Linked DNA regions of Homo sapiens. The protein of the gene in region 1 purifies or fractionates together with the protein of each later gene. This does not show direct contact. Each region holds a gene or a part of one and is shown in the gene's direction. Other genes may lie near its edges.

The links. The genes of interacting proteins can lie anywhere in the genome.
Region 2: the proteins of C10orf53 (region 1) and CA6 purify together in Homo sapiens (affinity purification with mass spectrometry; one large-scale study listed by BioGRID and IntAct). This does not show direct contact.

Annotation. Positions count from the first base shown.
Region 1 is NC_000010.11:49,686,026-49,689,731, forward strand, and holds part of C10orf53 (UPF0728 protein C10orf53), read left to right. Parts: intron 1-3,706.
Region 2 is NC_000001.11:8,955,698-8,959,403, forward strand, and holds part of CA6 (carbonic anhydrase 6 isoform 1 precursor), read left to right. Parts: intron 1-1,439; coding exon 1,440-1,588; intron 1,589-3,212; coding exon 3,213-3,305; intron 3,306-3,706. UniProt on the Homo sapiens protein: Reversible hydration of carbon dioxide. Its role in saliva is unknown.

The DNA of each region.
Region 1 (3,706 bases):
TTTTCCTTTCTACTCCTCAGACTGGGTTGTTGCAGGAAGTCAGAGACCCTGAACAGAGGGACCAGCTGGAGCTGAGGCAGAAGAACATAAATTGTGAAGATGTCATGGACATTTATCAGTTCCCAAAATTAATACTTTTATAATTTCTTACACCTGTCTTTACTGCAGTCTCTGAAAATAAATTGTGAAGATTTCATGGACATTTATCACTTCCCCAATCAATACTCTTATAATTTCTTATGCCTGTCTTTACTTTAATCTCTTAATCCTGTTATCTTCATAAACTGAGAATGTACGTCACCTCAGGACCACTATTTTACAAATTGATTGTAAAATATGTGTGTTTGAACAATATGAAATCAGTGCACCCTGAAAAAGAACAGAATAACAGTGATTTTCAGGGAATGAGGGAAGATAAACAGGAGGTCTGCCTGCGGGGTCGGGCAGAATACAGCCGTATTTTTCTTCTTGCAGAAAGCCTGTAGACAGACGTGTGAGTAGGAGAAATATCGCTGAATTCTTTTCCCAGCAAGGAATATTAATAATTGAGAACCTGGGAAAGGAATGCATTCCAGGGGGTAGGTCTATAGATGGCTGCTCTAGGAGTATCTGTCTTATGCGGTTGAGATAAGGACTGAAATACGCCCTGGTCTCTTGCAGTACCCTCAGGCTTACTAGGATTGAGAAATTCCAGCCTGGTAAATTCTAGTCAGACCGGTTGTCTGCTCTCGAACCCTGTTTCCTGTTAAGATGCTTATCAAGACAATGAGTGCACAGCGGGACATAGACTCTCATCAGTAATCCTAATTTTGCCTTGCCCTGTGATCTTTATTGCCCTTTGAAGCATGTGGTCCTTGTGACCTACTCCCTGTTGGTACACCTCCCTCTGGAATCAAGAACCAGAGTCCCATACTGGGAACACAGGCTGCTATCTTCAAGACTGCCACCAGGTCAGAGAAAAGGTGAGGCAAGGGCAGGCAAACATGCCACAAAGCTTTCCTACCATTTTAAAGTTGCCTTTTCTTTGATTCAGTATTCACTTGGTTGCTGTAGACCTTTGACTGTTTTCCAGAGTTTTGACAATGTTGGTTCTGACTGTTTCTGGGTTTTGTTTTGTTTTTTATGTATCTGCAGAGGAATGGGAGTTTGGAGCTGTCTGCTCTGCTGTTTTGCTGACATAAGTTCCTTGCTCCTGCCACAACCAGCATGATTGTAGGAGTTCCATTAGATCATTTACATACCAAAAATTTTATTAAAGCAGGATGCATAAATGAACATTTTGTTATAATACACAACTTATCAGTATTGGGGGGGAAACTCCCCATCTAGTTTGTCCACAAATCATGTCAGCTTTAGTTGTCACCTCTCCCTGGTCACTTATCTCCTGCCTACATTTTTGGCACTTCTGGCAGGGAGATGGCATGAGCAGAGGATAAGCACAAGGGCTCTGAAGTCAACACATATGGTTTGAATTGGGCTCCACCATTTAGTAGCTTTGCAGTCAAGGTGAAAATCAAGTGGTTTTACCTTTATGAGCCTCAGTTTCCTTGTTGGTAACAGAGGAATGTGAATCCCTGCCTCACCAATGTGAGATTCTGATGAGCAAGTGCATGTAAAGTAATTAACTCCATGCGTACACACAGTCAGGGCTCTGCAAGCGTTAGTTCTTATTGTTCCTGAGGAAGGCTCATTGCGAAGGGGAGGTGCAGGCAACCTGGGCACTTCTGGGGAGCAGCAGGCTATTGGGTCTGGTTGGAGGAGGATGTGCAACAGGAGAGTCCAGCCTGTCTCATCCTTGGCAACAGGAAGCCAGTGAAGGTTCTTGAGCTAAAGGATGATGAGATCTGGGATGTACCTTAAGAGTCCAATTTTGGAAGAAGAAATTTAAGAAGGAGAAATGGCAGGGTGTGGGGTGGAATGAACTATTAAGAAATATTAAGCCAGTGGCTGGAAATTACGTTCTGGAGTTTGGAAGAAAGATGAAGGCAGGAGATTTGAGTCAGGAGTAGCTATGACTTTAAATGACATTTATATGCGATGAACTTCCAAATTTATGTCTTTAATCAGGACCTCTCGTAGCCACTGCCATGTTGAGTAGGCATCTCAGACTTAGTATGCCCCAAATTTCCAGCTAGACCCCTAGCACTCACCCCCACCAGCAGCTCTGCCCACTTTCCCTCTCCACTGCTCACAGCAGCTCCATCTTGCAGTTTCTCAGGCCAGACACCCTGCAGGCACCTCTCACTCCTCTTTCCCTTACACTCCCTGTTTAGTCTGTCAACACAATTTGTCAGCTCTGCCCTCAAAGTACGCCCAGAATTAATCCCTCTTAGGCCTCCTGACTACCCCCTCTGCATTTTTTGTCCACCCGCCATCATCTCCTGCCTGGATTACTGCCCTGGCCTCCTGACTTCCCTGCAACCCTCATCTGCTTGCAGTTTGTTCTCAGTAACACAGCCAGCTGATACCGGTAAACCTGAATCACATGAAACAGCATGACCTTTACCCCTGAGAACATTCCAGGGGCCCCCAGCTCACTCAGGGGAGAAGCCAAAGGCTCACATGGCCCTCTAGGCTCCTTATGGCCCCCCTGATCTCACCCCCTCATCTCACCCCCTCCTGCTTCTGCCTATCCTCTCCCTGGCCCGCTGCTGCAGCCACAGCCACCTCCTGCAGTCCTTCAATGATCCTAGCCAGCTCCCACCTCAGGGCTTCACAGCCGCTCCGCCTGGAACGCTCTTTCCTACGTGGTCTTCAGCTTCATTCTCTCAGTCTCAAGATATTCCTCAAAAGTCACCTTCATGGGCAGGCCTTCCTTGGGCATCCCAACAAAAATGTCAACACTTCCCTCTGCCTCCCTCTTCCTGATCTCCCTTCCCTCCTTATTTCTTCTTCTTGCTCGTAATTACCTACCTCAGCACGCACTCACCTGTATACCTTGTTACCCTTCTCCCCCACTTGGAGGCATGCTTTGAGGAGGGAAGGGGCAGGAGTTCTTTTCTGGTTCTGTTCTCTGCTGGGTCCCAGCCCAGAGCTGTGCCTGGCATATTGTAAGAATAAACATTAGTTAAGAAAATCAACCTGCGTAAAGCCGAATGCTAGAACCACAGGAGGCAAGACTGCGGAGGAAGCAAGGAAAGACAGGACTGGAGATGGCAGGATGATGAGACAGCCCCCCGAGGGCAGGGTGTGTTAAGAGGAGCAGCCTGTGGAGGAGCAGGGGCAGAGGGAGGAGAGAACTGGAGGCATAAGGGGGCAAGCGATGGCATTTCAGGAAGAAAATTACCAGTGGGCTCCAAACTATTGAGTAGAGGTGATTTCTAGGAGAGAAGAATTCATGGCTGATGAAAGACTGAGAAAAAAAGTATTTTCCTAATTTACCCTCGGCGGGAGAGTAAATTGAACTGTCACCTTTAGAGGACAACTTGGCAGTGTCTGTTAAAATGTGATCATATACTGTAGAATCCAGCTGTTCCATTTCTCAATATCTTCCTTATAAAAGAAAAAACAAACCTCACACACGCACTAGGATGCATGCTGTGAATGTTTTCTACAACATTCTCAGCGATAGCGAAAAATTGGAAACAATCAGAAAAAGGAATGGGTAAATAAATTGTAGTGCGTACATCATGTAAAATCCTACACAGCGCTGAAGAAGAATGCAGCCACTCTATGTGTGTGACAGGGCTGGGGCACATGATGCACT
Region 2 (3,706 bases), on another chromosome or scaffold:
GCTACATCTCAAGCTCTAAATACAGAGCATTTGTTCTGCCAAACAGCCGGTGAAAACCTTTCAGGCCGGATTACTGCATTATAGCACATTACGTTATGAATTTAATCATAGCTCCCCGCTCCTTTAGACAATTTGGAAAGAAAGAGGGGGCACGTGACAGGTTTTAAATACCTCATATTTGCTATCTTTTAAGAAAATGTTCTTGTTTACAGCCACCATTGATGACTTTAAATAGGAAGATCTTGCCAGGCGCAGTGGCTCGCGCCTATAATCCCAGCACTCTGGGAGGCTGAGGAGGTTGGATCACTTGAGGTCAGGAGTTCGAGACCAGCCTGGCCAATATGGTGAAACCCTGTCTCTACTAAAAATACAAAAATTAGCCGGGCATGGTGGCATATGCCTGTAATCCCAGCTACTGGGGAGGCTGAGGCAGGAGAATTGCTTGAACCCAGGAGGCGGAGGTTGCAGTGAGCCTAGATCATGCCACTGCACTCCAGCCTGGGTGACAGAGTAAGACTCTGTCTCAAAATAAATAAATAGGAAGATCTTGCTCATGAGACACATGCTGCCTTTCCAACGCCGAAATTATATCCTCATAGATATTTTTCTTAGTCACTTTTCTTAGTAACTGAGCCCGTTTTTTTCTTTTTGTGTAGTTCATTCCAAAAGGCAGAGATTTCAGCTGGGCGTGGTGGCTCATGCCTGTAATCCCAACACTTTGGGAGGCTGAGGCAGGTGGATCACTTGAGGTCAGGAGTTCGAGACCAGCGTAACCAATATGGTGAAACACTGTCTCTACTAAAAACACAAAAATTAGCCAGGCATGGTGGCGGGCACCTGTAGTTCCAGCTACTCGGGAGGCTGAGGTGATAGGATCCCTTGAAGCCAGGAGTTGGAGGCTGCAGTGAGTTGCTGCAGCAAGTCATCGTGGTGCCACTGCACTCCAGCCTGAGCAACAGAGTGAGCATGAAAAAAAACAAAGAAAAGAAAACAGTTCTAAGAGGCCCCACTTCCTATTCTTATACCTTCGGCAAATTCCAAACTTGGCCAGAGATAGAGAGTAGAATTCTAGTTTCCAAGCCCATTGGCCATAATTTTTCAGGACCTTCCCTTTCCCTGGGGCCAGCAAGCTGGACCTGCCACTGTGTGGTCCTGCCTCTGGCCTGTTGGTTCTGGGCGGGAAGGAGCGTGCTGGGGAGAGGCACTTGCCCAGCCTGGTTTACTTAGTGCCTGGCCTCCATCCTGACCTCACCCTGTGCCCTGTGCGCAAACGCCTCTTCTCCTTTGGTGACCCTGCCCATGGCATTCTAAGCCAGTCTATGGTATTGGCTTGCCCTGGGCTCAGACAGGTGGGAGGTGAGCAGAGAAGCTACCCAGCCTGTAGGCCTGACCCCTCTGTGTTCACCTACTCTGCTCTCAGCCCCACCTTGTCTCTCCAGTGCAGATCAGCCTGCCCTCCACCATGCGCATGACAGTGGCTGACGGCACTGTATACATAGCCCAGCAGATGCACTTTCACTGGGGAGGTGCGTCCTCGGAGATCAGCGGCTCTGAGCACACCGTGGACGGGATCAGACATGTGATCGAGGTACCTGAGGACCCCCACTGTGTCCTCTTTCCTTTGAACCCCATAGTCACTTTTCTTTTTATTTATTTATTTTGAGACAGAGTCTCGCTCTGTTGCCCCGGCTGGAGTGCAGTGGCACAATCTCAGCTCACTGCAACCTCCGCCTTCTGGGTTCAAGCAATTCTCCTGCCTTAGTCTCCCGAGTAAATGGGATTACAGGCACCCGCCACCATGCCCTACTAAGTTTTGTATTTTTAGTAGAGACGGGATTTCACCATTTTGGCCAGGCTGGTCTCGAACTCTTGACTTCAGGTGATCCACCCGCCTTGGCCTCCCAAAGTGCTGGGATTATAGGCGTGAGCCACAGTGCCCAGCCGTCACTTTTCTTATTAAAATAGCCAAGGCCAGGTGCACTGGCTCACGCCTGTAATTCCATCACTTTGGGAGGCCAAGGCAGGGGAATTGCTTGAGCCCAGGAGTTGTAGATCAGCCTGGGCAATGTAGCGAGATCTTGTGTCTACAAAAAAAAAAAAAAAAAAAAAAATTAGCCAGGAGTGGTGGTACACGCCTATAGTTCCAGCTTCTGAGGAGGCTGAGGTGGGAGGATCGCTTGAGGCCAGCAGGCTGAGGCTGCAGTAAGTCCTGATCATGCCGCTGCACTCCAGTCTGAGCAACAAAACAAACAAACAAAAACAGCCAAAAGACTGTGCGATGGTAGCAGTTAAGTCATGCTGAAGTTGAGTTTATTTTTTATTCACTCAGCAACTATTGACAGATCACCACTTTGTGACAGGGGTTCAGGCAAGGTCCTGCCCTCACAGGACTCAGGTTGGCAGGACTTCACAGCCCACAGGGTGTGGCAAGCCCTCCTTTGTTTCAGCTGGATTTCTATGTGTTAGATTTTCTTTTTTTTTGTTTCTTGAGACAGAGTTTTGCTCTTTTGCCCAGGCTGGAGTGAAGTGGCATGATCTTGGCTCACTGCAACCTCCGTTCCCTGGGTTCAAATGATTCTCCTGCCTCACCCACCCGAGAAGCTGGGATTACAGGCACCTGCCACCATGGCCGGCTAATTTTTGTACTTTTAGTAGAGACGGGGTTTCGCCATGTTGGTCAGGCTGGTCTCAAACTCCTGACCTCAAGTGATCCACCCGCCTCGGCCTCCCAAAGTGCTGGGATTACAGGCATGAGCCACTGTGCCTGGACTGTGTTAGATTTTCTGAGTTACCTCTTTTGCCAGAATCCATCCATAGGATGACTACATGTTAACAATGGTTGCCTGGGACAAGGGGCGCAAGCTCACTCTCCCTGCAAAGCCCCCAGACACTCCAGGAGAACCCACTGTCCTCATGTGATCCCTTCAGACTCTGCCAGCTTGTCTGCCTGGAGGGAGGTGTGGTCGGGAAATGGCCTCGAACTGCCATCTTCCAGAATCCCACTCTTGCTCTTTCCATTCTTGGGGAAGTTTCTGCTCTTGATAGATAGGAATTGCAGCCCAGATGGAGAGAGATGGAGGTCCAAGTTGCTTGTGTGGAACAGTCTGAGGCCTCAGACGGAGCACCTTTCTTTCTCTTCCTCCTTCCCTGGAAATCTTAAGCATTTGAATTTCTATGAACTGCCCTTGACCCACTCTACCTTGCTCTTACAGATTCACATTGTTCACTACAATTCTAAATACAAGAGCTATGATATAGCCCAAGATGCGCCGGATGGTTTGGCTGTACTGGCAGCCTTCGTTGAGGTAAGCAGAAACTACCCATGTGTGTCTGTATTTGAAGTTATAGGTTGATGTCCAAACAAGGTGTGAAGTCTAGTTGAACAGTCTTCTTTATTATCACTCTTCATCTTTTCCTGAGCTCACAGTTCTTGGAAACATTGACTCGATGGAAGATCACTGTGCTCCTTCCGTGCTGTCAATCTCCGGACCTTGGTTAACGTGGACAAGCTGACTTAAAAGAGCTGGAATCCCAGAGGGGTTGCGTAGACACAAATTGTTCGAAGGGCAAGGGGAAACCTGCAACTCAGTCAGACAAAGGCAACACCTCTGCATTTCCTTTTTTTTTTTTTTTTGAGACGAAGTTTCACTCTTGTCACCCAGGTTGGAGTGCAGTGGCACAATCTCGGCTCACTGCAATCTCCACC